Homo sapiens: one gene and its partners. The protein of the gene in region 3 purifies or fractionates together with the protein of the main gene of each other region. This does not show direct contact. Each region holds a gene or a part of one and is shown on either strand. Other genes may lie near its edges.

Region 1 (3,500 bases), on a different chromosome or scaffold from region 3:
GGCAGCAAGGTCACAACAGGTGACAAAAGGAAGGTAAGAGGAGTGCCAGGAAAGGAGGCAGCCTGAGCAAGGCTGTGAAGATCATGCAGCATTTGAAAATCGCCCCACTCCCCTTGCCAGTATGTGTAGTAGTCACTTCCTTTTAAAAAACGCCAAATAAAATTACCATTTGACTTCATTCTTCTGAAGAAAACATAATTTTAGATGTTATATATTTAAATATTTGTAAAAATTATAATTAGGGAGTAAAGAGGCCTGTGATAACTGTGGATATCATTTATCACAGAATGAACCTGATCTGTGCAGTTCTTTAGGTAGCTTGTTAGTTTTTTGTGTGAATATGTTAAGTATAAATAAGAGGGTTTTTGTTGGTGGTGTTGTTGTTGTTGTTTTAAGACAATTCAAAATCAGAAGCTACCCACAGATGCCAGGTCTCCATAATAATTGTTGCCATTCATTGAGAATTCAGTCCAAACCAGCCACAAAGGAGGTTTTGTTCCCATACCATTTTCTCTGTTCCTCACAATAGCCCTGTAAAGTAGATGGCATTATCCCCCATGTTGCTGTTGAGAAGAATAAGACTTGGAGAGCTTAAATAATTTCCTTAAATTCCTGTTACTAAGTAGCAGAACCATAACTTGAATTTGGTCTGTGTCAATTCAGAGCATCTCATTCCTGATTGCCTCTCATTCCACGTCCTTCTGAAGGCAATGTGCTTCCATTTCCTCCTTGCCCCATGATCTTTATTAGCACAAGGGTTAAGCTGTGATTGTGCTGTGTGTCCACCCCACTCTCTGTCCTGCACCTCCCCCATCCCTGGTCATGGGTGATGGAACAGATTCTGTCTCCAGGTAATTTGGAATTGGGCCTGAGAAACAGTTTCTGGATTGGAGTTTATCCACAACATGCAAAATTGGGAGTTTGTGGGCAGCCTCATTCTGCCATGTATATGGCGAGTAGCCTGGAGGGAGAGAAAAGGTGGGCCAACACATCAAGGGGAGAAAGAGCGAAGGCATTCCGGTTCCCAGCCCCAGCCGCTTCCTGTGGCCTGGCCACATACCTGCCTGCAGGTTTCATGTGACATGGCTATGTCTGCCCTTATAACAATTTCTCTCCTTTTTGCTTGTGGTAGCTCAAGGTGATATGTGCTTTGTGCATCCAAAGATTTCTAGTACGTGAGGGGATGAACCCCTGGGGAACACCAACATTTAAAAGGCAGAAGATGAGGACTCAGCAAAGGAGATTGAGAAGAGAGAGTGGTATCTAGGAAACCAGAGAAGGAGAGATTTCATTCCTCAGAGAATTTAAGTGAGAGTCTTAAAAAGAAGCCGTTGAATTGGATGGTTGTGAGGTCATGAGCGACCGTAGGGAATTCCACTGGGATGATGATGGAGGTCGAATTTCAGTGAGTTGAATAATAAACAGAAAGTGAGAAAATAGCAACAGTGAGTGGAGCCTGTCAGTTCTAAGGGTTGTCTCCAACAGGAAAGATACAAAAATGGAGAAGTGGTGGGAGACACAGGAATGGGACTTTTTTTTTTTTTTTTTAAGAAAAGACTTAGAATTGCAGCGGTCAAGGGCTGGAAGAAGAGAATATTATGGTGTTAGGAATAAGAAGGAAGACCTTGGCAAGCAATGGTACAGTCTGAGAAGGGCTTCCAGTGTCCAGGATCCTGAAAGGTGATGGGCTTTGGAAAAACTGATGTGTCTTACAACCAGAGAGTTTAATTTGAGCATGTCTACGTGCAAATGTTGCCAACAGCTTTCTCGGGGTGTCGTCTTGACATTGCAGGTCTCAGCGTATCCTTTGCCGGAGCATCGCAGCACAGCCCTGGCAAACCAAGCTGCCATGCTGTACGTGATTCTCTACTTTGAGCCTTCCATCCTTCACACCCATCAAGCAAAAATGAGAGAGATAGTGGATAAATACTTTCCAGATAATTGGGCAAGTATTGCTAATTTTTTTCCTCTACAGTAAATGTGTTAGAGAACTAACTTCCCATTCTTTTGGCCTTTAACCCACAGGTTGTAATGTTGTAAATAATGGGACATAACATCACTTAGGTAAACTTGCTCTAACTGTATTGAGAATTTTATAATTATAACATGAAGGAATAAATGAGTCAGTAAAACTTCCTGAAGAACCCACTAGTCTTTTTCTAAAATGGATACTCTCAAGATTAAATCATTTATTAAAATGTCTCTTGCTTTAGCTACTGAGATTACAACTAAGTTGTGTAAGAATTTATTTATTCTTTTCCATTTTCTGAATCTAAGATAGCCAAATTCATCTAATTTGTCACTTTGTGAATAGGAATTTCACTTTAATAATAAAGTTTTACCTATAAGCTAACTGTAATGGGGTTACTAAAGTTTATATTATTGCAAGGATATGCTTGTACCTTTGTAAGCATTGTTTCATTTAAAAATATTCTTATAGGAATAAAGCTTGCTTCATAATATATATGAAATGAAATATATGAAAACAAAGAGGCTTTAACAAAATGCAGGGAGTTGGATTATATTCGCATGTAGCAGATTTTGTTCTGCTTCTATATCGGCTGTTGAATCACATAAACTATCGTTATGAGGGGCCTTCAATTTATTGGTAGTATGAGAACAGCCTACATTAGGAAGTGGTGGTTCCTGGCCAACTGTGAATCATATTAGTGAGCTCAGAGTTGAGCAGCCAAGAGGAAAACACTGATAGTGTGGCTTCAGGTTCCTAAGTTTAATAAAGAAGTTTTGACCATGATACTATAATTAAAGACATATTTATTATTAAGAAAGACCAAAATCCAATTACATGAAACCTGTAAGATACACACCTGAAAAAATACCCTAGCACAGTGAAAATGAAGGGATTTTAAAAAAAGATATCCCAGGCAATTGCCAACCAATAAAACAACTGGTGAGAAAACATTAATATTACACAATAGAGAATTTCAAAAAGCAACGTTAATAGGTGTAAAGAGATCTTTATACCTATTAACGTGAATTAACAATCAGGAACACTTACTTAACAATCAGGAACACTTACCTATATATTTGGAAAATCTTGGTTTTTCATTGGAATGGAATTTAAACATGGAGTGGGTATTGCCTTCTATAACTTTAGTATTCAACCCTTTGCCTTGAAGTGAGTAGGAATTTAACAAATTCTGAATGTCTCCTCTTTCAGGTAATTAGTATTTACATGGGGATCACAGTTAATCTAGTAGATGCTTGGGAACCTTACAAAGCTGCAAAAACTGCTTTAAATAATACCCTGGACCTTTCAAATGTCAGAGAACAGGTAGGTTCTAATCTGGGGACATTCTCTGATAACTGCAGGCCTAGTTTATGAAGTAGCAAATAAGCTAAGTAGATTTCCCAAGGAATTTGGAAGATAATCACTTAGATAATTTAATGCAATGATTAATAAAAGGTGAATTTTATAGGTTAGAATAAGATAGGTAATTGTAGGTTTTGTTATATAGTATATGTAAATTGAAGATTAG
Region 2 (4,045 bases), on a different chromosome or scaffold from region 3:
CCGTTCTCCACTGTTACTTCAAATTGTCCAAGCAGTGAGTGTAAATGATAGAAAAAGTTGGAGTGAAAAGGAATACCAAACTGATATTACAAAGAGCTACTTCCCCAAATTCTCCAAATGCAGGAAAGTGCTGACAACAGCCAGCTGTATTTGAGGGATCTTTGTCATCACCTGCCAACCTTTTCCGGGTTTATCTTTGAAGACTAAACATCTCCCTGTACACAGTTTATGTTTAGACGGGAACCAAATAACAGATTATTATTTACTGAGGGCCTGTGATGTCCCACGCACTGCGGAAGCAAGCACTCAACAAGCATTTCACGTATCCTAAAGACAGCCCAGTAGCGTAGGCCTATTATCCCCATTTTGCAGAAGAGGAAACTGAGGCTCAACAGAGGGAATGCCTCAAGTAATGGGTGGGGCAGGAGCTGAACCAGGCAACGTGGCTCCCAGTCCCACACTGTCCTTATCTCTTCCTACCTGGGCTGTCGTTTTTCTGACCCGAGGCTACTGTAATGGCTCTATTTACCTGCTGGCCCTTGAGTCTGAGACCCTTGGGGTGCATGGTGGGGCCACGCCCCTCCACTGTCTATAAGCCAGGAAAGCTGAGCACTCAATATGAACCAAGCCTCATCTCAATTCTCACAGCCGCACTACAGGGTGGTCGTTCCATCACTCCCGACTTACGAGGAAACTGATACGCTGATGCCTCTAAGGCGCAAAAGGCGTCGAACCTGGACCACGCTCACAGAGCAAGCAAAACACGACGCCACAGGTATCTCCGCCCCGCCCCAGCCCTTTTATAGGCGAGCCCTACGGGTCGCGTACAGGGCCACGCCTAGACGCTATTTTTGGGTCCACTCCACCACGTCGGTCCCGCCAAAGGTTGTCACGCGCGGCGCACTCTGGGAAAACCACGTGGAGGTGACTAAAAAGGACCCTGCCGCCTGTAACTTTAGTTGTCTTAGCTACTGCCTACAAAAGATGCGCCATCATGGCACTTATTTTTGTAATTTTCCTCCACCAGCGGCCGAGAAGAGAGCCGAAGCCTTTGAGAAAAATATTCCCAGACGGTTGAGTGTTTCTGGGCACATCAGGCATTCATTCGGGCCGCCTGCCCTCTAGTGGGGGGGTCCTTCACTCCTGGCACCTCTGGTTACGGACAACATACAGAAGCCACTGCCAATGAGCTCCGCCGAGTAGCACCGGGGCAGGGCTAGCGCTTAAAGGAGCCGCGACCCCTTTGCAGACCAGAGGGTGACCCGGATGATGGCGGCCGGCGCGGCCCTAGCCCTGGCCTTGTGGCTACTAATGCCACCAGTGGAGGTGGGAGGGGCGGGGCCCCCGCCAATCCAGGACGGTGAGTTCACGTTCCTGTTGCCGGCGGGGAGGAAGCAGTGTTTCTACCAGTCCGCGCCGGCCAACGCAAGCCTCGAGACCGAATACCAGGTAGAGGGTCGCGGGCTGGGCGGCCAGCAGAGTCAGGGAGAGGGGGCGTGGCCAAGCGGTCGAGGCGAGGCGCGCTTTAGGAGGAAGGGGGAGGAATCCGTGCTTGGGAGCGCGGGGGCGGAGCTAGAAAGAGATGGACAGATGGGGCGGGGACGGTGTGTGGGAGCGGAAGGGGAGGGAGTAATGAAGCAGGCGGGGCTAGAGTAAGAGATCCAGAGGGGGCGGGGCCATCGATAAGTATAGGGAGCCTCTGAGAGGACAGGACTCTGGCTGGTGGGCGTGGCGATAGTGCTGATAGGTCAACTGCGGGGGCGTTGCCCACACAGGCCTTTCTCGGGGGTTAGACTAAGGAAAAAGGCTGGGCCTATCCTCTTTCGGAGGCGGAGCCAACCAGGGGCGTGGTCAGGTAAACGTCCATTAAGTACTTTTGGTAGGTGCGTGGTCAGCTGAAAGTATGGACCCCAAGCTGTCATATCAATGAGGGTGGAGGCAAGGGGCGCAGCCACTGGGACAGGTTGGGGCGGGTGTGGGTGTGCCGCCGTTCAGGTAAGCCCTTGGTGGTCTGTATTGATCAGTGTTGGTTCAGCCGTAGCCCTCTTCGGCAGGCGCCCTTGGCCTACCGCTAGCCCTCCACCCGCTCTTACCTGCCCCCCAGGTGATCGGAGGTGCTGGACTGGACGTGGACTTCACGCTGGAGAGCCCTCAGGGCGTGCTGTTGGTCAGCGAGTCCCGCAAGGCTGATGGGGTACACACGTGAGTTCAGTCTTGATGCCTGCCTGGGTTCAGTTACAGCCCTGCCCTTCCCAGGCGGCCTCAGGTTACCGCCCTGACTGCCCCGCTGAGTCGGCTGGCTGGCCACCCTGGGTCATGTCTGTGTGTCTGTCTGCCCAGGGTGGAGCCAACGGAGGCCGGGGACTACAAGCTGTGCTTTGACAACTCCTTCAGCACCATCTCCGAGAAGCTGGTGTTCTTTGAACTGATCTTTGACAGCCTCCAGGATGACGAGGAGGTCGAAGGATGGGCAGAGGCTGTGGAGCCCGAGGAGATGCTGGATGTTAAAATGGAGGACATCAAGGTGTGTCCAGGCTGCGCTGGGGCCACTCCTTCCAGATCTCTAGGATTCACCTGGGGTGCCCCCCTTGGGCTGACCCAGCCTCCCCTCCGTAGTTGTGCCCTCCAACTGAATTATAGTAAGAGTAGCAGCTCTTAAAATAAGTAGTTCATTTCAGGCCGGGCACGGTGGCTCACGCCTGTAATCCCAGCACTTTGGGAGGCTGAGGCGGGTGGATCACCTGAGGTCAGGAGTTTTGAGACCAGCCTGGCCAACATGGTGAAACCCCGTCTCTACTAAAAATACAAAAATTAGCCGGGTGTGGTGGCGGGCGTCTGTAATCCCAGCTACTCAGGAGGCTGAGGCCAGAGAATGACTTGAACCCAGGAGGTGGAAGTTGAACCTGGGAGGCAGAGGTTGCAGTGAGCCGAGATCGCACCATTGCACTCCAGCCTGGGCAATAAGAGCAAAACTCCGTCTCAAAAAAAAAAAAAAAAAAAAAAGTAGTTCATTTCTAGGTATAAACCCTGGTGTAAAGGTTTAAGGAACTCATATCATAAATAACTCATACCGTAAATCTCCAAACCACCTTGTGAAGCAGACCCTGTGCTCAAGTCATCCCCATTTTACAGGTGGAGAAAGTGAGATACAAGATGGCTGAGCAACTCACGGCCACACAGACCAACTAGCAGAGTTGGTATTGAACCCATGCTGGTTTCAGCAACTATGCTCTTAACCACAAGCAAATATGTTCTGTACATTTATTAGTATTTTAATTAACTACTTATTTATTTATTTTCTAACAGATCTCTCTTGGTCACCCAGGCTGGATTGCAGTGGCACGATCTCAGCTCACTGCAACCTCTGCCTCCCAGGTTCAGCCAATTCTCCTGCCTCAGCCTCCTGAATAGCTGTGCCACCACGCCTGACTGACTAATTTTTGTATTTTTAGTAGAGACAGGGTTTCACCATGTTGGCCAGGCTGGTCTCGAACTCCTGACCTCAGGGGATCTGTCTGCCTTGGCTTCCCAAAGCTCTGGGATTACAGGTGTGAGCTACGGCGAGGCAAGGTCTTGCTGTGTCACTCAGGCTGGAGTGCAGTGGTGTGATCATAGCCCATTGCAGCCTCAAACTCCTGGGCTCAAGCAATCCTGCCACCTCAGTGGGACTACGGGTGTGCACCACCATGCCTAATTTTTTGTTTTCTGTAGAGACGAGGTTTCACCATGTTGGCTAGGGTGGTCTTGAACTCCTGGGTTTAAGTGATCCTCCTGTGTTTGGATTACAGGTGTAATCTTGCTTCAGCCTCCTGAGTAGCTGGGATTGCAGTTGCACATCACCACCCCTGGCTAATTTTTTGTAGAGATGGGGTTTTGCCATGTAGCCCAGGCTGGTCTCAAACTCCTGGGCTCAAGCGATCCTCCCACCTCAGCCTTCCAAAGTGCTAGGATTATAGGCATGAGCCACCATGCTCATCCTTGTACATTTATTTAGGCATTAAATGTTCACAGCAATTTGGAAGCTTATAGAAGAGGAAACAGGCTC
Region 3 (3,500 bases):
TGTATCATCCATGGATTGATTGGTAGGTTGACTGGTAGAGATGGGACTTCTATAGTTATTGGGTGCCTAGAAAGACAAACAGCAGAGAGTGTCAATAATTCACTGCATTTCAACAACTAATGAAGACATTCAAAACATACCTCTCATAAATGCAGGCATGATATGGGACAAGTTTCCATTATAATTAATTTGATAAAACATTCTCATTGTATTGAACTTCTGTTGGAAATCATATTCTTGACTGAGATGCAACAGAAATCTAGTCTAGATTAATACTTGCTGTATTGTGCTATGAATTACCTGTTTCAATGTAGAACTCCCTCTCCCAATGTTAAGCTATTTTGATAAGAACAATTACTATCATTTTTATATGGAAATTCTAACACAGTGTCTGAACTTTAAAAAATAAGCAACTTAACATATAAAAAGTTAACAAAACTGACATCAAGATGATATTGTATAATCATTAATCTTCTCTACCGTAATCAAGTCACTTTGACCACATATGTATGTATGTAACAGAAAATATGCAGGTGTGAAAAAAGAAAGACAAATTAAGAGACAAAAGAAACTAGAGAAAGGTCTTTTGATGAGTAATTTAAAAATTTAGATTGACCTTAGTGTTGTTGGTTTTTTTGAGTCAGAGTCTCGCTCTGTTGCCCAAGCTGGAGTGCAGTGGCGCAATCTAGGCTCACTGCAACCCCCACCTCCCAGGTTCAAGCAATTCTGCCTCAGCCTCACGAGTAGCTGGGATTACAGGCAAGCACCATCACGCCCAGCTAATTTTTGTATTTTTAGTAGAGATGGAGTTTCGCCATGTTGGCCAGGCTGGTCTCAAACTCCTGACCTCAGACGATCCGCCCACCTCAGCCTCCCAAAGTGTTGGGATTACAAGCGTGAGCCACCATGACCAGCCAGATGTTAGTGTTTTTAAGAAGAAAGCAAAATGAAAATTCAAGTGCCATGATTACTTATAGAGGTTATCTTTTAAAAAAGAGAATGAAGTAGTTCTAATGTCTTTTTTTGACAGTCCAACCTATTAACTCTTTAATAATCCTTCAAAATATTATTCTACAAAAACCTGAAAAAGTTGGATACCTAATATAGACCGTTGCAAAGCTCCCTTTCATTCCCCAAATTCACAACAATAAATGTGACTAGACTGGCATGAGTAGACAAAGGCTAAGGATGAAGAAGGGAATCCCAAAATTGTGTATGACAGAGCACCAATTTATTTCTTGCTGAAGTGGCTGATGAAATAAAGCAAGGTTTCTTGATTCTACAGTTGGCATCAAGAAGCAATCCATGTTTTTTGCCAACAAACAAAAAAAATATTTTTTGCAAAAGTAACTACTTAATAAATAAAAAGTTAAACTGATAAATTATGAAGGCATCTGATGAACACATGTTGGATTGTCAGAACCTTTTTAGTACTTGGCTTGTGGCCATGTAGAATTCCACTGCGAATAGTTAAAATGAAAAGAAATTTATATACTTTTGGCTAGGAATTGGGGAATTTTTTGTCTTAGTTTGGGCTGCTGTAACAAAATACTGTAGACTGGGTTGCTTAAACCACAAACACTTATTCCTCACAGTTCTGGAGGCTGGGAAGTCCAAGATTAAGAAAATATTTTCCTAACTTGAGAAAAAAAAAAGAGTCCAGTGAGGGCCTGCGGGCCTGTTTCTTGGTTTGCAGACAACTGTCTTCTCAGTATCCTCACATTGCAAAGAGCAGAAAGAGGAAGCAAGCTCTTCTGTCCTTAAAAAGGCACTGATCCCATTCACGAAGACGCCACCCTCATGATCTAATTACATCCCAAAGTCTCCACCTCCTAATATCATCGCATTAGGCATTAGGATTTCAACATATGAATGTTGGGAAGACATAAATGTTCAATCCATAGCAACTTTTTTTGTGAAATTTCATAAACAGGATGCTATGCATTAAAGGAAGAGATTTGAAGTATAGTGGGGATAACGAGCATGAAAATACATATCCCTCTTATCTGCAAACCCAGAAGGAAGTTTCTAGTCTTTTAGTTAAACACTAAGGGGCAGCAGCAAGGCAGAATAAGGAAGAAACTTTTACAGCTCATCAAACTCCTGCAGCCCATAAGGAAATAAAAAAGTTCTTTGGTTGTATAAGTATACACTAATAACTTACCTCCAAAGATAATAATAATAATGAATATCATTACGTTCTTCTATGTGCTTGCTACGCTTCTGGTTCTTTTATGCAATTTAACCATCACAATAACCTTATGACATAAAAATATTATGTCCTCTCCTGGGTTGGATACTGTCCCCTGCAAATTCATGTCCTCCTCAGAACCTCATAATGTGACCTCATTTGAAAATAGGATCCTTGTAATTAGCTAAGCTCAAACAACGCTGTGCTGGAGAGGGGTGGGCCTTTAAGTCCAAGATAACTGGGGTCTCCATAAGAAAAGAAGGAAGGCAGACACACACACACAGCTGAGAACAGTGATGAGAGGGGCAGAGATTGGAGCGATGTGTCTACCAGCCAAGGATCGACAGCTCCACTAGAAGCTGGATAGAAGCATGGGATGGATTCTCATCCCACGAAGAAACCAGTACTTCTGACACTGTTTCTTGTACTTCAACCCTCCAGAATTATGGAAGAATAGATTTCTGTTGTTTTAAGCCACCCCGTTTTGGTAATTTGTCACAGCAGCCCTAGAAAAGGAACAAAGATTTAGGGAAGGCATAGTGTTGATTGTTATTACGCCAGGGTAATTGCTCCTTTATTTATATTCATATAAAAAACTTAGTTTCAAAGGGTATTAAAAATAGAATAGTTCAGAAAATAACTTTCTCCAAATAGCTGATATTTAAATTACAGGCAACTGCATGGTCAGGTTACTGAAAGGACAATAAAATATAAGATTGCTAACTGCAAAAGAGACTGACTTTGCATCTGTAAATTACAAAAGAAAAAAATGACAGTTCCGTATAAACTTACCTTCTGTGTATCCCAGGACTCTGTAAATAGATCTCTTCTCTCTCTCCTTCTCCTTCTGGAATGCATATTCAATAAAGGATATAAAGATATGATATTCCAGTACTAATATTATTTCGAAGACTCTATACCTCACTGTACCCCTAGCCCACATGCACCTTCTAATATGTTGAAGTAGCTTTATGCACATTTATCCAAAATTCTGTTACCCTACAGTTTTTTTCATTTTCCCTGTCTTCTCCAAATTGCTCCCAGATGGTGAGGGCAACTAAATGGATATCTAACCACTGTGCATTAGTAATTAATCTCAGTGATTTTACTAAAGAATGATTTATAGTGACTTATTACATAAATGACTTATAGCTTTCTCCAAATAACCTCACATTTAAGACATTTTCCACAATTAAAATTTATTTTAAATGCCAGCAGTGTAACTTCTTGGATGACAATATAATGAAGCTTTATAAAATCTTTTGGGTGTTATTCTAAATCACTCGTATGGATTATTTTATTAAATCAC
Region 4 (3,500 bases), on a different chromosome or scaffold from region 3:
TAGGTGACCAACACAATGATTTATGTTTAAAAGTCTCTGGATTTGACTCTGCGTTCTAAGCTTTGTTAATTATTAAACTTGGGACATTCTGGCAATTCCCTGATAATTTTTAAAGCTGTCAGCAAATTTTAATCACTCCCTTTGGGATAAACAGAGACATACTGGGAGGATAGCTGGTTAATACATAACTTTCTTTTTTGATGTTTTAAAAGTTCCAAGATAGTTGTAGACTAACTTTTTAGAAATGTGTATGGTGTATAAATGAGTATGCACTGAAATCTCTTTTACCCAAGGGGCAGATCATCTCCAGAGACTTGGCAGAGCAATGACATCTCCCACATGGAACTGGACAGCAGCACGTTGCATCTGTCCCGCGTCTCTCAGTTTTAGTGTTTGGGTGGGTGGAACCATGGAAACTATCTTTTGCAATTCTGGAATAGTTCTTGTTCAATCCCCAAAATAAAAACTAAAAAAGGCAACTTGAAGCAGAAACAAGAAAGTTTTGGCCAGACTTAGGAGAGGAGATTTGGTCATTTGAGGGTGGCAGGCACTTGTTTGAGATCCCTGGAAGTGTTGGAACCAGACTTCCAAATTGTAACCAACACCTGGCAGGTGATCTTTGTGGCAGGGAGAGCAAGCCTGGCTGCAGGCTAGTGGTACTGGCTTTGGCAGGGAATGTCAGAGATGGCTCACAAGGGGTTATGAGTTGAGGTGTGTGGTGGGCAGATGTGGCCCATATGTTAATGGCAAAGCCTCTTTCTCACCTTTGGTGAAGAAAAATGGAGAACTTCCCTGGGCTCCTGTAACCCACTTGAATGTCCTAAAAAATAATAATTATATAGATATGCCTGAAAATTTGTATATCCTAGTCAAGGAAAGAATACACAGAGGTAATACAGCAATATTAAAAGAACATACGATTTATCTTGGAAGGTTGAGACGGGAGGATTGCTTGAGCCCAGGAGTTTGAGACCAGCCCTGGCAACGTAATGAGACATGGTCTCCACACACACACACACACACACACACACACACACACACAAAGGCTGGGTATAGAGGAGTGCACCTGTAGTCCCAGCTACTCTGGAGGCTGAAGTGGGAGGATCACTTGAGTCCAGGAGCTCGAGGCTGCAGTGAGCTATGATCATGCCATTATACTCCAGCGTGGGCCACAGACAAAGACTGCCTATAAAAAAAGACTGGGAGGGGGAGAATAGGCTTAGTGTCAAACACACTAGTTATGAATCTCATTTCTTATGCTTACCTATGTGGAACCTTAAAAGGTACATAACCTCCCTGTATTTCAGCTGCCTCATCTTTAAAATGAGACTCATAATGCCTTCCTGGCCGGCTTGTTTCAAGGATTGGAAAGAATGCACATGTAGGACCATAAACAGTGATCACTTCGGCTTTGGCTTATAGGTGCCTTACTCTACCTTTTTGGAAATATATCCTTGTTTGTCCTGTAGAGTTTTTCAATCTAAGGGAGCAAAAACAGGCATTTCTATGTAATCACTTCTTTTCACCAACCAATAATTTTTCTGGATGTGCAGCATAGATAAGGTGGCAACAGGACGCCATGTATACATGTGGGCATCAGGAGAGACTCGCCTGACTTCAGCCTCATCCTGGCTCAGCCAATTCCTTTATCCCCCCGCAAGGGGCCTGAGGAACTCAGGCTCACTTTGGGCTCTGAGACCCACTGGGTTCCGCTTCAGGAGAAATTCTGGAAGTCTTAGATCTGTACTTCAGCCTCACCTCAACCTGGCTATTATTCCAATTCTGATCTGGTCTTCATTTCAGCCATTTGATTCCTGTCTTAACTACAATAGAAGATAAATGCATTAATAACAAATGATATTATTTATTTAATAATATTATTTAATAATAAATGATAAAAAGGTAGCATATCAAGCGTTATCTACATGCTGTACAAGGTGTTAGGAGCTTGATTAGAATGACAAAAGCTCTGTGAAGGTTAAGAATGACAAAGCCTTGTTCTTTCTGCTTGATTCTAACACCCCTGGGACACAGTGTTGGGGCCGGTTGGTGGGCTGTGTGAGTAGAGCCAGTTGCCACTAGAGTCACAATTTCTAGGCCCCCATGTGTCCTCAGAAGTCACCAGGGCAGGTTTAAGGCTTGGCTTGGCATTGACAATGGTCACAATTTTCTTCTCCTCTGACTGGGTATTGAGGTCTAGGCTCCCTGCCATACATTCAGGGGCAGTGGTGGAGCATAGGGGTTAAGAGCATGGTGTCTACCCTGGTTCCACCACTAACTAGCTGTGCCACCTTGGGCAAAATAGTTAGTTAACCTTCCCATGCCTTACTTTTCTCATTTGGAAATGGGGATAATAATGGTATCTATTTCACAAAGTGGCTGAGAGAATTAAAGGAGAAAATACATGTAGAGTGCTTGGAATGTGGCTTGGCATTTGGCAGGCACACAATAGATATTGATGATTATTGTTCATCAGGCTGACAAAATGTCCACTAGCAACTAGTGGTCTGAAGTGCCAGTGTGCCAGCTTCCTCACTGTCAAACTTTGGGCTGAGGAAGTGGTTTGTGGCTGTGCATTTGAATGCACTGACACACACACACACGCGTGCATGCACACTCGGAGAACATTAGCCTGTAACAGAGATTCTGCTTCCAAGCCCTGTTTTCTTGGCTTGTATATGATTTACTAACACAGATGATGTGAGAAAGTCAGCAGCTTAATTTAAACAAAAGGCTTTAACTCTAATTATTTTAATATGTATTTTAAGAGATAAATATGTCAGAAACTATAAATGCAAAACATTTGTATACGAAGAGGAAGGAAGATAACACAGCTGTTAAACACAAAGGGCATTGGAGGCCTGGGACTTGGGCTCAAATCCCATCTGTTCCCCTAAATGTGGAGCTTGGGCAATAGGGGTGGCAATAGTAACAGGTTAGTTTTTTTGTGGAGTTCAATTACAGATGATTTTCATTTTTTTCCATTTTCTGTAATTTACAGATTTTCACAACAAATATGTATTATTTCTGCAACTCACGTTTCCAGAAACACCATACTCTTCCCTCTCCAAAAAAATTCCTCAAAGTATAAATCACCATGATGGAATGTGACTGCATCTTTCATTTATATCAGTGGCTTTTCTTCTTAAAAATATTTGAGGGAATTTTTGTTATTAATAAGTGTGGTTATTGGCCAGGCATGGTGGCTCACACCTGTAATCCCAGCACTTTGGGAGGCCAAGGTGGGTGGATTGCTTGAGGTCAGGAGTTCAAGACCAGCCTGAACAACATGGTGAAACTCCGTCTCTACTAAAAATACAAAAATTAGCCAGGCGTGGTGGCGCATGCCTCCAGTCCGAAGCTACTTGGGTGGCTGAGGCAGGAGAATCACCTGAACCTGGGAGGCAGAGGTTACAGTGAGCCGAGATTGTGCCACTGCCCTCCAGCCTGGGAGACAGAGTGAGACTCTGTCTCAATAAATAAATAAATAATTAATAAAT
Region 5 (3,500 bases), on a different chromosome or scaffold from region 3:
AGAGGGCAGGGGGTGGAGGGGCATCTGGGGTCGGCTCTGTGCAGCTCCCCAGCCAGTGACTGTCGAGAGGGGCTCCCGTGCTGCCTGAGCATCTGAGTGAATGGGGGGCTGTTGTTCACAGGAGGGATTTGGAGGCCCACAGGAGGCCTGAGACTCCCTGGTGGCCCTGCAGCTGAGCTGGCAGGGCTGGGCCTGAGGCCTCTGGCGTGGCCCGGGGCCAGTCAGTGCTGCATAGTGAGTCCTGAATGTCAAGTGGGTCTGGCTGTCCTGCCCCGGGCAGGGGCCCTTGAGGGCAGCAGAGCCTTCTCTTCAGCTAGAGCATCGCAGGCCTGCACCCTCGCTCTGTCGCTTCTTCCTGCGTGACCTTGGGTGGTCCAGACACTGTCCTGGGCTTTATTCGGGGGAGGCCTGCCTGCTCAGCTCCCACCAGCCCTTTGTGACCCCGTGTCCTCAGGCAGGGATCAAGTTCATGCCCACTGACCTCAGCCTCTCTCTCGGGCTGTCTCCTCCAGCTCAGGGCAGGCCAGATGCAGGACAACAGCTACGGACTGTGGTGGGTTGCGAACCCAGGCGGTGGGAGCCCAGTGGTCAGGGAAGGCTTCCTGCAGGAGGTGGTGTTAACTGGCTTGCCATGGAGGTTGCAAGCCCGGCTGCCGACAATCAGAGGGTTAGGATTTGCCTGCTCATTTCTGACTCCTCCATGGGCCGTGCTGGCCCTGGCAGGTGATGGTTTCACTGGGACATCTGCCTTCCAGGGCAGATAGTGGGCCCTGCCTCAGTTTGCCTAGCATGGGGGACGTGTTTTCCACTAGAGCCTGGAATGCCCAGATGTTTCTGTTGAGACCTTAATGATAAGACTGAGGTCACCATACAGAGACCTTGGGGAAGAGCTTCTGGGCTGGGGGAACGGCAGGTGCAAAGGCCCTGAGGCAGAGAGAAGCTTGAGCCTCGGGGAGAGGCCTCAGCCCCACGTGCCAGAGGGTCGCTCTGGTCTGACTGCGCACGGGGAATGTGCTGCCTCAGGAACTGGTGAGCCCTCTGTTCCAGGCACTGTGCCAGCCCAGGCTGGATGGCCACTCAGAGGGGATCTGAGCTCTGGGAGTAGGGCCAGTGTTCTCCTAGCAGAGTTGGGAGCCTGGCTCCTAAGAGCACAACACCTCTGTCTGTGCCGCCACAAGGTGAGGTCAGCCTTGTGCCCAGTTGCAGCCTGGGGGGCAGTTCCCTGGGGCAGGGCTGGCCTGTTATCATCCTCCCCACTCATCAGAAGGAAATGAGTTCTGGTTAAAACGGCAGTGTTGGTCGCCTGTCGCCTGTCTTGTCATTTACGAAAGCAGTACACGTTCATGGAACATTTGGGGAAAAGGGAAGAGCGTGAGACAGAAGCGTCCCTCCAGCTGGGTTCAGTCCAAGAGCATAGAGCTGTAGGGTGGGTGTCCCTGAGAACTGGAATCCTATTGCTTTTGACATGTCTCGTACTTTGGACCGTGTTCCAGATGCTTGTCCAGCGTCCCACGGTGCCAGGCAGGATTCTGTACCTACAGATGACAGAAGCGGGCCAGACACGGAGGCCCCCGGGGAGCTGGGTGGAAGCTTCAGGAGCAATCCCTGAGTGGACAGGAGCTGATGAACTAGGCTGGGGGTGTACAGCGAATGGGACCCTGCATTGGGGGGTGGAGGTGGGCAGGAAGCCCCTGATGGCTGGTCCCAGTCCACTCAGGATTTCCATCTTGGCCGGTGTCTGCATTCCTGGGGAGACTCCGATTGGCTGAGCTTGCCTTTTGGCCAGGGGGTGTGAAGCTGTGGGCCCTGGACCTGCTTGGGGTGGGTGTCAGGCCACCCTTGGCCCGGCCGCTGCCCGCATCAAGGGTTCCTATATCTGGGCTCCTGGTTTTTGTGGTTCTGAGGGTACTCTGGCCACCTCTGTCCCCAGGAGACTCTGGGGTTCTCAAGCCCCTTCCTTGGAGTGCAGCAGCCTGGGACCCTCTAGAAGTCCCCGAGGTCTTCACGGCTTTTTGTAGGTGTGGATGTTGGGGTGGTTATTCTTGCTCAGGGTGCTGGCTCCCTGATCTCCCCAGTTCTAGCATCACCAGGGGCCACTCCAGTCTGTGTGTGCGGGACCCCCGCCTGCCCCCCACTCGCCTGAGACTCGAGGGCCAGCTCTAGGACCCCTCTTCTGGGCATCTCCATGGTGACCCTTCTTCCTCCCCTGACCCCTGGGCAGGCCCTGCCAGCCAACCCCGTCTAAGGGATTTGCAGTGTCAGCCGCTCTGACCCCCGGCCGGGGGCTCTTGGTCAGGCTCTGGGGGAGCGGGGAGCCCTGCAGCTTGGTTCCCCAGGCCACGGCGGCTCTCCCCGGATGCTTGTGCTGCTCGTTTCTAAAGCACTTTTCTTGGAGAGCCACCCAGTGGCCCTGGGAGGTGGACACTGTGTCCCCGACATAAGCAGAAACGGGGGCCGGCCAGCATGGGGGGCCGGAAGACTGGGCACGGGTTCCAGCTGCAGCCCAGCCACGTCCGTCCCAGTGGATACAGCGTCAGCACAGTTCGTGAACCCAGGGGTGCAGGTTTAGGGGGCTCAGGGGCATCTACACTTCCCCCACCTGCCCCACCGTCAGTTCTGCTGAGGCCTCGGCTAGAGAAGAGGAACCGAATCTGCAGCCAGGGGCCTGGGGTCAAGGACATGGGAAGTGCCTGACGTGGCCACCGGGGAATTGGCATGTGACAGCGGGTGGATGGTGGGTGTGGGAGGGTCACAGGAGGGCCTCCTGTACCCGGGCCTGCCGCTATGTTCTGCAGGGAGCCCACCCAGGCCCTGTGCTGGGCCTCACACCATCCGAGGGGGCTTCTCACAGTCTTGGGAGGCTGGCTGAGACCTGAGTCCTGTGGGGCAGCACCCACTGTGGCTGGGTCAGGCCCATGTTGGCCGAGGGTGTGGGAGGAAGCCGGGCCACCCACAGAGTGCCAGTGCCTTCGGCCTCTGAGGAGGGTACCAGCCACAGTGCCCCTAGCCGTTCTGCCCCCCTCGGGCCTGTGCACGCTGGCTGGGTTCCTGGCCATCGTGGAAGAGCACTCCTGAAGTTCTGGGGTGCACCCAGCTCTGAGCCCTGCAGCCCTGTGTCTGGGGTTCGGCCGTGCCCTCTGGGCTGCCTCTCCCTGGTAGGGAGCTGATCCCGGAGATGGGGCTCCAGTCTGGCGGCTCCTGGCTGGGTCTGAGGCCTGGGGCCCGGTCCCCAGGCAGCTGGTGCAGAGGGCTGCAGACAAGTGGGAAGAGCAGGGGATTTTCCGGGTGTCACGCTGGGAGATGTGTCGGAGCACGGGGACCAAAATAGACACGCTTGCTGCAGCTCTTTGGTGTCTGTTCCTTGCACGAGGGGGAGGGCGGGCGTGGGCAGCGGGAGAGCTGGGGTCCCCCGGCTACAGGGTGCAGGAAAGGGGCCCGGCCTGTGGGGAGACGGGCAGGAGCGGCTCTGAGCCTCAGCCCCAGGGCTGCCTCTCTGGCCT
Region 6 (4,229 bases), about 20 Mb from region 3:
GAGTGCAATGGTGAGATTATGGCTCCCTGAAGCCTCAACCTCCCGGGCTCAAGCGATTTTCCCACATCAGCCTCCCGAGTAGCCGGGACCGAGGGTGTGCCAACCACTCCCAGCTAATTTTTGTATTTTTTGTTGAGACAGTGTATCGCTATGTTGCTCAGGCTGGTCCTTCCGAACTCCTGGGCTCAAGTGATCCTCCCACCTTAGCCTCCCAAAGTATTGGGATTACAGGCATAAGCCACAGGGCCCAGTCTACTTTGGGTTTTAATATGTTTTCCTGTCATAATTCTGCAAGCTCAGTGAATTTACTGGCAGTCTATGCTAGAAAAGAATACCTAATATTTGTATAGTACTTTACAGAGTACACTGGCACATATTGACTATATAATGGGAATAACGGTGCTATCTGTTCCATAGGGTCATTTTGCGAAATAATAGTGCATGGCAAATAGAAAATAATCCATAATGTGAATTGTTATTACTACAGTCATGTCAACATTTCCTGTAATGGCAGAATCATCATCATGCATATATTTTAGGTGAGGAAACTGGCTGAGAGAGGTGAAGTAATTGCTCAAAGACGTCAGTGTGGAAACCTCAGCTCATTTGACTTCAAATTCCATAGTTTTGGCACTATCTCATATTGCTACTCTTTCCCGTGGGACCTGTCCTTTCCGACAACTTTGCAGGCAGGGCTAGCCCTGCCAGCTGCCTCCATCAAAAATTATTTTGCTATTTCTCAATTCTCCAGAATCCCACACAATATTGCTTGACTTTGGGATGGTTATTCAGCTGCAATTAACAGAGGCCTTAATAAGGTTAAGCCGCCAGAACGAGCGGTGTAGCATGAGCGAGGACTCTAGCACCTGGCAGGTGAGGTTGACTCTAGCACCCGGCAGGTGAGGTTTTTGCGCTTCTCTCTCTCTCTCTTTTTTTTTTTTTGAGAAGAGTCGAGCTCTGTCGCAAGGCTGGAGTGCAGTGGCCCGATCTCGACTCACTGCAATCTCCGCCTCTCGGGTTCAAACGATTCTCCTGCCTCAGACAGCTACTTTTTGACTCACTGCAATCTCCGCCTCTCGGGTTCAAACGATTATCCTGTCTCAAACAGCTACTTTTTGTATTTTTAGTGGAGACGGGGTTTCACCATGCTGGCCAGGATGGTCTCGATCTCCTGACCTCGTGATCCGTCCACCTCGGCCTCCTAAAGTGCTGGGATTACAGGCGTGAGCCACCGCGCACGGCTGTTTTTGCGCTTCTCGATTTCGCCACGTGGCTTTGCGGTAGCCCAGGAGGTACTAGGAGGGCGGAGGCACGAATAACACCCAAAGGACTACAGTTTCCAGAAGCCCGCGCGCGCCGCGTGCCACGTGACCACCTGGCTGGCGCGCGCGCCTGGGGGTCTGGTCCCTAGCCGCGTTCTCGGTCGCTTCCCTCTTCTCTCGCCGCCTCCTGGCCTCCGCACCGACGCGGCCCGGGCTGGAGCCGAGCCGGGGCCGAGCTGCAGGCCGGACCGGAGCCGGATCTGTACCCGCTGAGACGTGGAAACATGGAGGCCTGAGCCGGTGTGCGCCACCTGGGCTGCGGCGGCGACAGCGACTTCTCCTGACCCCTCTGCCACCCTCCCATCCGTCCGCGGGTCCGTGGAGCTGGAGCAGATCCCCCAGCCGGCTGAGACAGGTGGGCTGTAGCGCCGCCCCCCTCAGCGCGGCCGGGCCCGAAAGCCTGGCTGTCCCCGGCCTCCTGTCAGAGGGGGTCAGGGGCCACCCTCCGCAACCCGGCCAGCGCCCCGGGGCGGCGGCGAAGGGACCCTCCCTTCCCTGCCCGCGGGCGCCTGGGCCACCCGGAGGGGCTGTGCTGACAGCGGACGGACCTCTGTCCGAGTCCGCTGTTGGGAGTTGGGGGATACCGAAGGCCAAGTCGGTGCTTCCGGAGATGGGGCGGTGTTGGTCTGACAAATGGGCGTGTGATGGGCAGGGTGAGCAATAGCTGTTGGGTTTTTCTTTCTTCTTTTTACATTCATAGTTTATCGAGGTATAACTAACATATCAGAAAATTAACCCTTTAAAAGTACAACTCAGTGGTTTTTAGTATATTCACAGGGTTGAGCAGCCATCACCACCCTTAACTCCAGAGCATTTTTAATCACCGCCCCCCCCGCCCCAAAGAAGCTCGTACCCATTAGCAGTCACTCCTCCTTCTCTCCCCTACACTATTGATCTACTTTCAGTCGCCGTGGATTTGCCTGAGCAATTGTGTTTTGACTGAAAAGTGAAAGGGTGGGTGTTTGTGAACTGGGGGCAGTAGTGGGGTTTGAGGGTATTGGTGTGGTAAAGCTGATTGGATAAAGCTGTTCTCTACTGAACAGGGGTAGAGAAGTGATGGGATGATTGTAATCGGCCAGCAAAGCGGGTACCCAGGATAGACTGATTAGGGGGCACAGATGGAGTGAGTTCCTTGAAAGAGGAGAGGGGAAGTTGGAGAGAGGGGTGTGTAGAGCAAGGGTGATGTGCTGAAGGATGAAAACCTGGAGGGTGGAGGCCGTGGAGAGGAATGTAGCGTCCACCAGAGGAACTCAGGTGCTTAGGCTGATGAGTTGAGGGCTCAAGAGAAGAACGAGGTGGAAGGGAAGAGAATCTATAGGAATGGGTGAATGGTTGTTGCAGAGGATGAAATTTATGAATATATGGATTTCTGGAGTGATTATCCTGCTTTGAAGTTTTATTTTAGATAATCCTCTCAGCAACTTGGAGATAGACCGGACAAGTATGAATATTCCCATTCTGTAAATGAAGAACTAGTCTTTTAGAGGTTAGGTGTCTGCCTTAAGCTCATAAACTGAGTACATAGGGCAAAATGAGTTGGAATAATTGATGAAACTATCAGTCGCAAGTGGATTAAATGGCAGAGAACTGAGTTGGGGCAATGTTAATAGGAAGGAGATTCAGCTATTAAGAAGTCTGTGTTGTTACGACATATAGGTCAAGGAGTTTTTATGTTTTTGCACCTTTTAACCATAGAAAAGTTCACACAGTGAAATAATAAAGGGTACTCCCATGTACCCATTACCCAGCTTCAGCAGTTAACTCATGCCAATTTAATTTCATCTATGTCCCTATGCATTCCTATCCCCACTCACAATTATTTTAAAGCAAATCATAGACATTCAATTTCATCTGTAAATATTTCAATATATATCTGTAGAAGATTGAATTGCTTTTTTTTGTTGGTGGTGGTGGGAGGCAGAGTCTCGCTCTGTCATTCAGGCTGGAGTACAGTGGCGTGATCCCGGCTCACGGCAACGTCTGCCTCCTGGGTTCAAGCAATTCTCCTGCCTCAGCCTCCTGAGTAGCTGGGATTACAGGCACGTGCTACCATGCCTGGCTAATTTTTTGTATTTTTAGTAGAGACGGGGGTCTCATCATGTTGCTCAGGCTGGTCACGAACTCCTGAGTTCAGGCATTTCACCCACCTCAGCCTCTGAAAGTGCTGGGATTACAGGGGTGAGCCACTGCACCTGGCCTGCTCTTTTTAATAGGCCCAGAATACCATTATCACACATAAAAATTAATAGTTTTTAATATCTAGAAAGATTTACTGTACTTTAAAAAAGTGTGGTAATCCATTTGATACAAAGAGGATAAACAGTGCAAACGCTTTTATGTTTGACTCTGAAAAATGTGGCATAATTATCTCCTGATTTTTCCATTAGATCCTGCCATCCTGATTGTTCCTTTTTTTTTTATTAATATGGCTCATTTTTCTACAGAAAGTTTGAAGAATTGTCACTTTGGTAGGCTTTTTAATGAATGGAGGGCAGGAGAGAAATAGAAGTGAAATATGTTACAACATGTACAAATGGCTCTTTCTTATATTGCTCCAAATATTTGGGCAATTTGGTTATGCTTTTCTAGATAATTTCACATATTATTAGAAGTTGTTTAATGTTATGTATCAGTTTTCTATGATTGCTGTAACATGTTACCACAAATTTAGTGGCTTAAAACAATGCATTTATTATTTTACAGTTCTGTAGGTTAGAAGTCAAAGTGGGTCTCACTGGCTGTCAACAAGGCTGTGTTCTTCTCTGGAGGTTTCTAGGGGGCATCTATGCCTCTTCCAGCTTCTAGAGGCTGCCACTTTCCTTGGCTTGTGGCGTACCTCCTCTGTCTTCAAAGCCACCAGTGTTGCATCTCTCTGATCATACTTCCATCCTCAAGTCTCTGACCACA
Region 7 (3,500 bases), on a different chromosome or scaffold from region 3:
AACATTCTCATCACCCCAAAAGGACACCCAGACCCCGTGAGCAGTCACTCTCTACTCCCCAAACCCCAGCCCCTGGCACCCACTCATCTGCTTTCTCTCTCTATGGATTTGTCAGTTCTGGAAGTTTCCTATGAATGGAATCAGACAGTACGTGGCCTTGTGTGTCTGGCTTCTGTGAGGCTGATTTTTAACGAACAACTCAGAGGAGCTGAGAAGGAAGGTCCAGTTCAGAGTTTCTGCCTCCTCCTGCCCCTGAGGTGCAGGAGACAAGGAGAGCAGCCCTCACTCTGTTGCCCCAAATGGCAGACCCCATCGTCGGGCTGTTTTGTGGTCTGGGGTTTTTCACCTCCTGCGAGGGATTTGGAGCACACCTGCTGCCAGGTGAGAGAAGGGAGGCGGGCACGTGACAGCCCAAAGAAAACGCCCCACTAGCGTAAAGGCGATGTAGGGATGGAGATGTCTGTTTTCATGGGCATGAAATCCTGGTGATGTGGACCCCATGAGGAGCCCCCAGGAGCTACTGGGTTTCCACCCCCAACCTTCCCGGGCAGGCGGCCCATGGAAAGGTGACTGCCTCCTCTCCATAGGACTCTCCTCTCAAAGCCGTGCAGATGTTGTGGGTGAACTTGATCATGGACACATTTGCCTCTCTGGCCCTGGCGACGGAGCCACCCACAGAGTCGCTGCTGCTGCGGAAGCCGTACGGCCGCGACAAGCCCCTCATCTCCCGCACCATGATGAAGAACATTCTGGGCCACGCCGTGTACCAGCTCGCCATCATCTTCACCCTGCTGTTTGTCGGTAGGCTGGCCAGGGGCACCCGGGAGGACTTCAGGACACTGTTGCCACCACCTCGGGCTCAGATTCTGTCTGGTGTGTCTCCACCTGTGTCTCCGCACCCAGTACGGGGTGGGACGCTGCACTTCCTGACTGGACAGCACACAGGGGAAGGAGCAGATGGGCCAGGCTAGCAACCCTGCAGCCAGGCCTGCTGGTGGCCTACAGCTCTTTCGCAAGCCTCTCCTCCCAGGCCGCTGAGCAGCTGAGAAACAGTTCATGTCTTGACATCCTGCCCACGGCTGTGTAGCTGTGTAGAGTAGGCAGCTTCTACCCAGCCCCAGAGTGGCCACGGTAACCCTAGGAACAGAACAGCCCACATTTACCCTGTGAAGATTGCTCCTGTGGAGTGACTGGGGTGCCGTGCTGGAAGCTGTGAGGTGGGTGGGGGGTGACCGCAAGAGAGAGGAAGAGGAGGAGGGCGTCCGAGGAAAGCCAGCCTTAAGAACTTCCCTTCTTAATCTCTTCCTTCCTGCCCTCAGGCTCAGGGTCTGGCCCCTGGCCCAGAGGGGTCTCAGGACTCTGGTTGGTTGAGCCTGGGGTGGGTGTGGCTGCCTTGGGCCTTGGCCGTGAGCTGGAAGTGGCCATCCCCTGGGACAAGGGACCCATCTCGGGAGCTACACACCGAAGTCTCGCTCCTGAGTAATGCGTCATGCGCTGAGATGACTGTGCCTGAGTGGGGAATGTTGCTTTCCAGGGGAGCTCTTCTTCGACATCGACAGCGGGAGGAATGCGCCCCTGCACTCGCCACCCTCAGAGCACTACACCATCATCTTCAACACGTTCGTCATGATGCAGCTCTTTAACGAGATCAACGCCCGCAAGATCCACGGCGAGAGGAACGTGTTCGACGGCATCTTCAGCAACCCCATCTTCTGCACCATCGTTTTGGGCACTTTCGGGATTCAGGTAGGAGGGGCGGCTCCACTCTTGGCCTCTGCCACTTGCAAAAAGTGGAGGTGGTGGGCTTCAAGACCCCTCGTCCACCCCTAGTACTGGCCTCCCCACCTCCACTCCCAGAAGGAGCCCCACCCCACCTGGCTTTCCTGTAGCCCCCGTCCTCTCTGCATGTCGGAGAGGGCCTTCTTCATCTTCCAAACATTGCCGGCCTTGCCCTGGGTGAGCGCGCTGGCTTCCAGAAGGGTTTCGTGAGCCCTCATCGGAACGAAGTTTTCTCACAGATGCTGGAAGGAGTCCTCCCTGGCTCCCTCTAGGTCTGCCATTCCCATTTCTAGCACTTAATTCCTTGGCATGAGGCTGCCATAACTCCAGAAGTTTCTTTTGGAGATGACCTCTGTGCCCAGTGCTGACACACTAACCTCTGCTTCCCACAGTGCTGTGGACAGGCTGGTCAGCCCCACTGTCTAGGAGGGGCTAAGTGTTCTAAAATATAGTGTATTTGTAGAAAAATTGAGGTATAGTAAGGCCAAAAGGTCAAGAGACAGTTGCCACTGAAAGACAGTTTATGACTCAGAGACCCCAAGAGGAGGACACATGCCACACCATAGGGGCCCACATGGGAGAGCGCCAGGCAGGAGGTGGGGTGTGAGAGCTGTGGACAAGAGCCTTTGCTGTGGTTCCCTCGGGGAGGAGCAGGTGAGGCAGGGCTGGTAGGCTCAGGACTGGCTAGGTTGCGTCATTGCAGCGGTTCCAGGGCATACGGGTGCTCCCTGGCTGTCTGGTACCTGGTCCTGGGTAATGAGTGCAAGGGGATAGTGGCCCGGAATGTGACAGTCCAACAGAGGACGGGGTCAGTTTGCATTTGGACAGCTTGCCCCTGCAAATTGGATGCCTCCCGAGGAGGCAGGAGGCCAAGACAAGGTGACCTCGGCAGGTTCTAGGGTCCTCCAGAATGAGGCATGTCCAGCGTGCCCGCAGGGTGGGTGTCACAGCCTCCGTCTTGCTGAAAATAGGAGCATGGTCAGTGGAGCTGGGCCCCACTCCGAGGCTGGAGTCAGTAGGTGCCTGGCACCCAGGGGCGCTGGGGGCCATGCACTGCTCTGTCATCACGCCCCCGGCCTTGTGGTCCTCTCGCAAGGAGCAGCCCGTGCAACTGGGGGAACCAACCAGGGTGGCTGGGTCTTCAAGGGGTTGGAGGACAAGGGTGGCTCAGGAGCCGCGGCTGGACCTGCCTCTCTCCCACTTGCCCTTCGCAGATTGTCATCGTCCAGTTTGGCGGGAAGCCCTTCAGCTGCTCCCCACTATCCACAGAACAGTGGCTCTGGTGCCTGTTTGTTGGTGTTGGGGAGCTGGTCTGGGGACAGGTGAGTGACAGCCCTGCCCCTCATTTCAGACTGCCCTGCAGACAGCTTCTGTGATGGGCCCACTTGCCCTAACCCTGCTTCAGAGCCTTGGGGTCCTCACCCTAGGAAGCACACTGAGGGCTCAGGCCTGTGACACACCAGGACCCAGGGACAGGACGCAAGGGAAGGTGTCAGCAAAAGAATGCAAAGGAACATGGCTGGGATGTGACAGGGCCCAGGAAAACTGCCCGCAGCTCCCCTTTCTATGATAAGAGCCAAAAATTGCCCCTTCCAATTGGGTGGGTAGCTTGGGAAATCCCCACATATTTTAAATCAATCAAACAGCACCCTGATCAATAATCCATGGGGCGAAAAGAAAGTCTCCAGAGAAATTAGGAAATATTTTGACCTGATGGAAAG

What was found.
Region 1: the proteins of CD226 (region 3) and WASHC5 purify together in Homo sapiens (affinity purification with mass spectrometry; one large-scale study listed by BioGRID and IntAct). This does not show direct contact.
Region 2: the proteins of CD226 (region 3) and TMED1 purify together in Homo sapiens (co-immunoprecipitation; 2 studies listed by BioGRID and IntAct, with this or other methods). This does not show direct contact.
Region 4: the proteins of CD226 (region 3) and MAOB purify together in Homo sapiens (co-immunoprecipitation; 2 studies listed by BioGRID and IntAct, with this or other methods). This does not show direct contact.
Region 5: the proteins of CD226 (region 3) and TTYH3 purify together in Homo sapiens (co-immunoprecipitation; 2 studies listed by BioGRID and IntAct, with this or other methods). This does not show direct contact.
Region 6: the proteins of CD226 (region 3) and DYM purify together in Homo sapiens (co-immunoprecipitation; one large-scale study listed by IntAct). This does not show direct contact.
Region 7: the proteins of CD226 (region 3) and ATP2B3 purify together in Homo sapiens (affinity purification with mass spectrometry; one large-scale study listed by BioGRID and IntAct). This does not show direct contact.

The regions. Positions count from the first base shown.
Region 1 is NC_000008.11:125,074,793-125,078,292, reverse strand, and holds part of WASHC5 (WASH complex subunit 5), read left to right. Parts: intron 1-1,792; coding exon 1,793-1,945; intron 1,946-3,181; coding exon 3,182-3,295; intron 3,296-3,500. UniProt on the Homo sapiens protein: Acts as a component of the WASH core complex that functions as a nucleation-promoting factor (NPF) at the surface of endosomes, where it recruits and activates the Arp2/3 complex to induce actin polymerization, playing a key role in the fission of tubules that serve as transport intermediates during endosome sorting.
Region 2 is NC_000019.10:10,833,413-10,837,457, reverse strand, and holds the start of TMED1 (transmembrane emp24 domain-containing protein 1 precursor), read left to right. Parts: upstream 1-1,245; 5' UTR 1,246-1,266; coding exon 1,267-1,449; intron 1,450-1,717; exon of another isoform or gene 1,718-1,855; intron 1,856-1,866; exon of another isoform or gene 1,867-1,926; coding exon of another isoform or gene 1,927-1,995; intron 1,996-2,104; coding exon 2,105-2,202; intron 2,203-2,340; coding exon 2,341-2,524; intron 2,525-4,045. UniProt on the Homo sapiens protein: Potential role in vesicular protein trafficking, mainly in the early secretory pathway.
Region 3 is NC_000018.10:69,864,374-69,867,873, forward strand, and holds part of CD226 (CD226 antigen isoform a precursor), read right to left. Parts: exon of another isoform or gene 3,374-3,500; intron 3,039-3,373; coding exon 2,984-3,038; intron 67-2,983; coding exon 1-66.
Region 4 is NC_000023.11:43,875,951-43,879,450, reverse strand, and holds part of MAOB (amine oxidase [flavin-containing] B), read left to right. Parts: intron 1-3,500.
Region 5 is NC_000007.14:2,634,986-2,638,485, forward strand, and holds part of TTYH3 (protein tweety homolog 3), read left to right. Parts: intron 1-3,500. UniProt on the Homo sapiens protein: Calcium-independent, swelling-dependent volume-regulated anion channel (VRAC-swell) which plays a pivotal role in the process of regulatory volume decrease (RVD) in the brain through the efflux of anions like chloride and organic osmolytes like glutamate.
Region 6 is NC_000018.10:49,457,846-49,462,074, reverse strand, and holds the start of DYM (dymeclin), read left to right. Parts: upstream 1-1,429; 5' UTR 1,430-1,677; intron 1,678-4,229. UniProt on the Homo sapiens protein: Necessary for correct organization of Golgi apparatus. Involved in bone development.
Region 7 is NC_000023.11:153,559,142-153,562,641, forward strand, and holds part of ATP2B3 (plasma membrane calcium-transporting ATPase 3), read left to right. Parts: intron 1-587; coding exon 588-801; intron 802-1,534; coding exon 1,535-1,746; intron 1,747-2,993; coding exon 2,994-3,101; intron 3,102-3,500. UniProt on the Homo sapiens protein: ATP-driven Ca(2+) ion pump involved in the maintenance of basal intracellular Ca(2+) levels at the presynaptic terminals. Uses ATP as an energy source to transport cytosolic Ca(2+) ions across the plasma membrane to the extracellular compartment.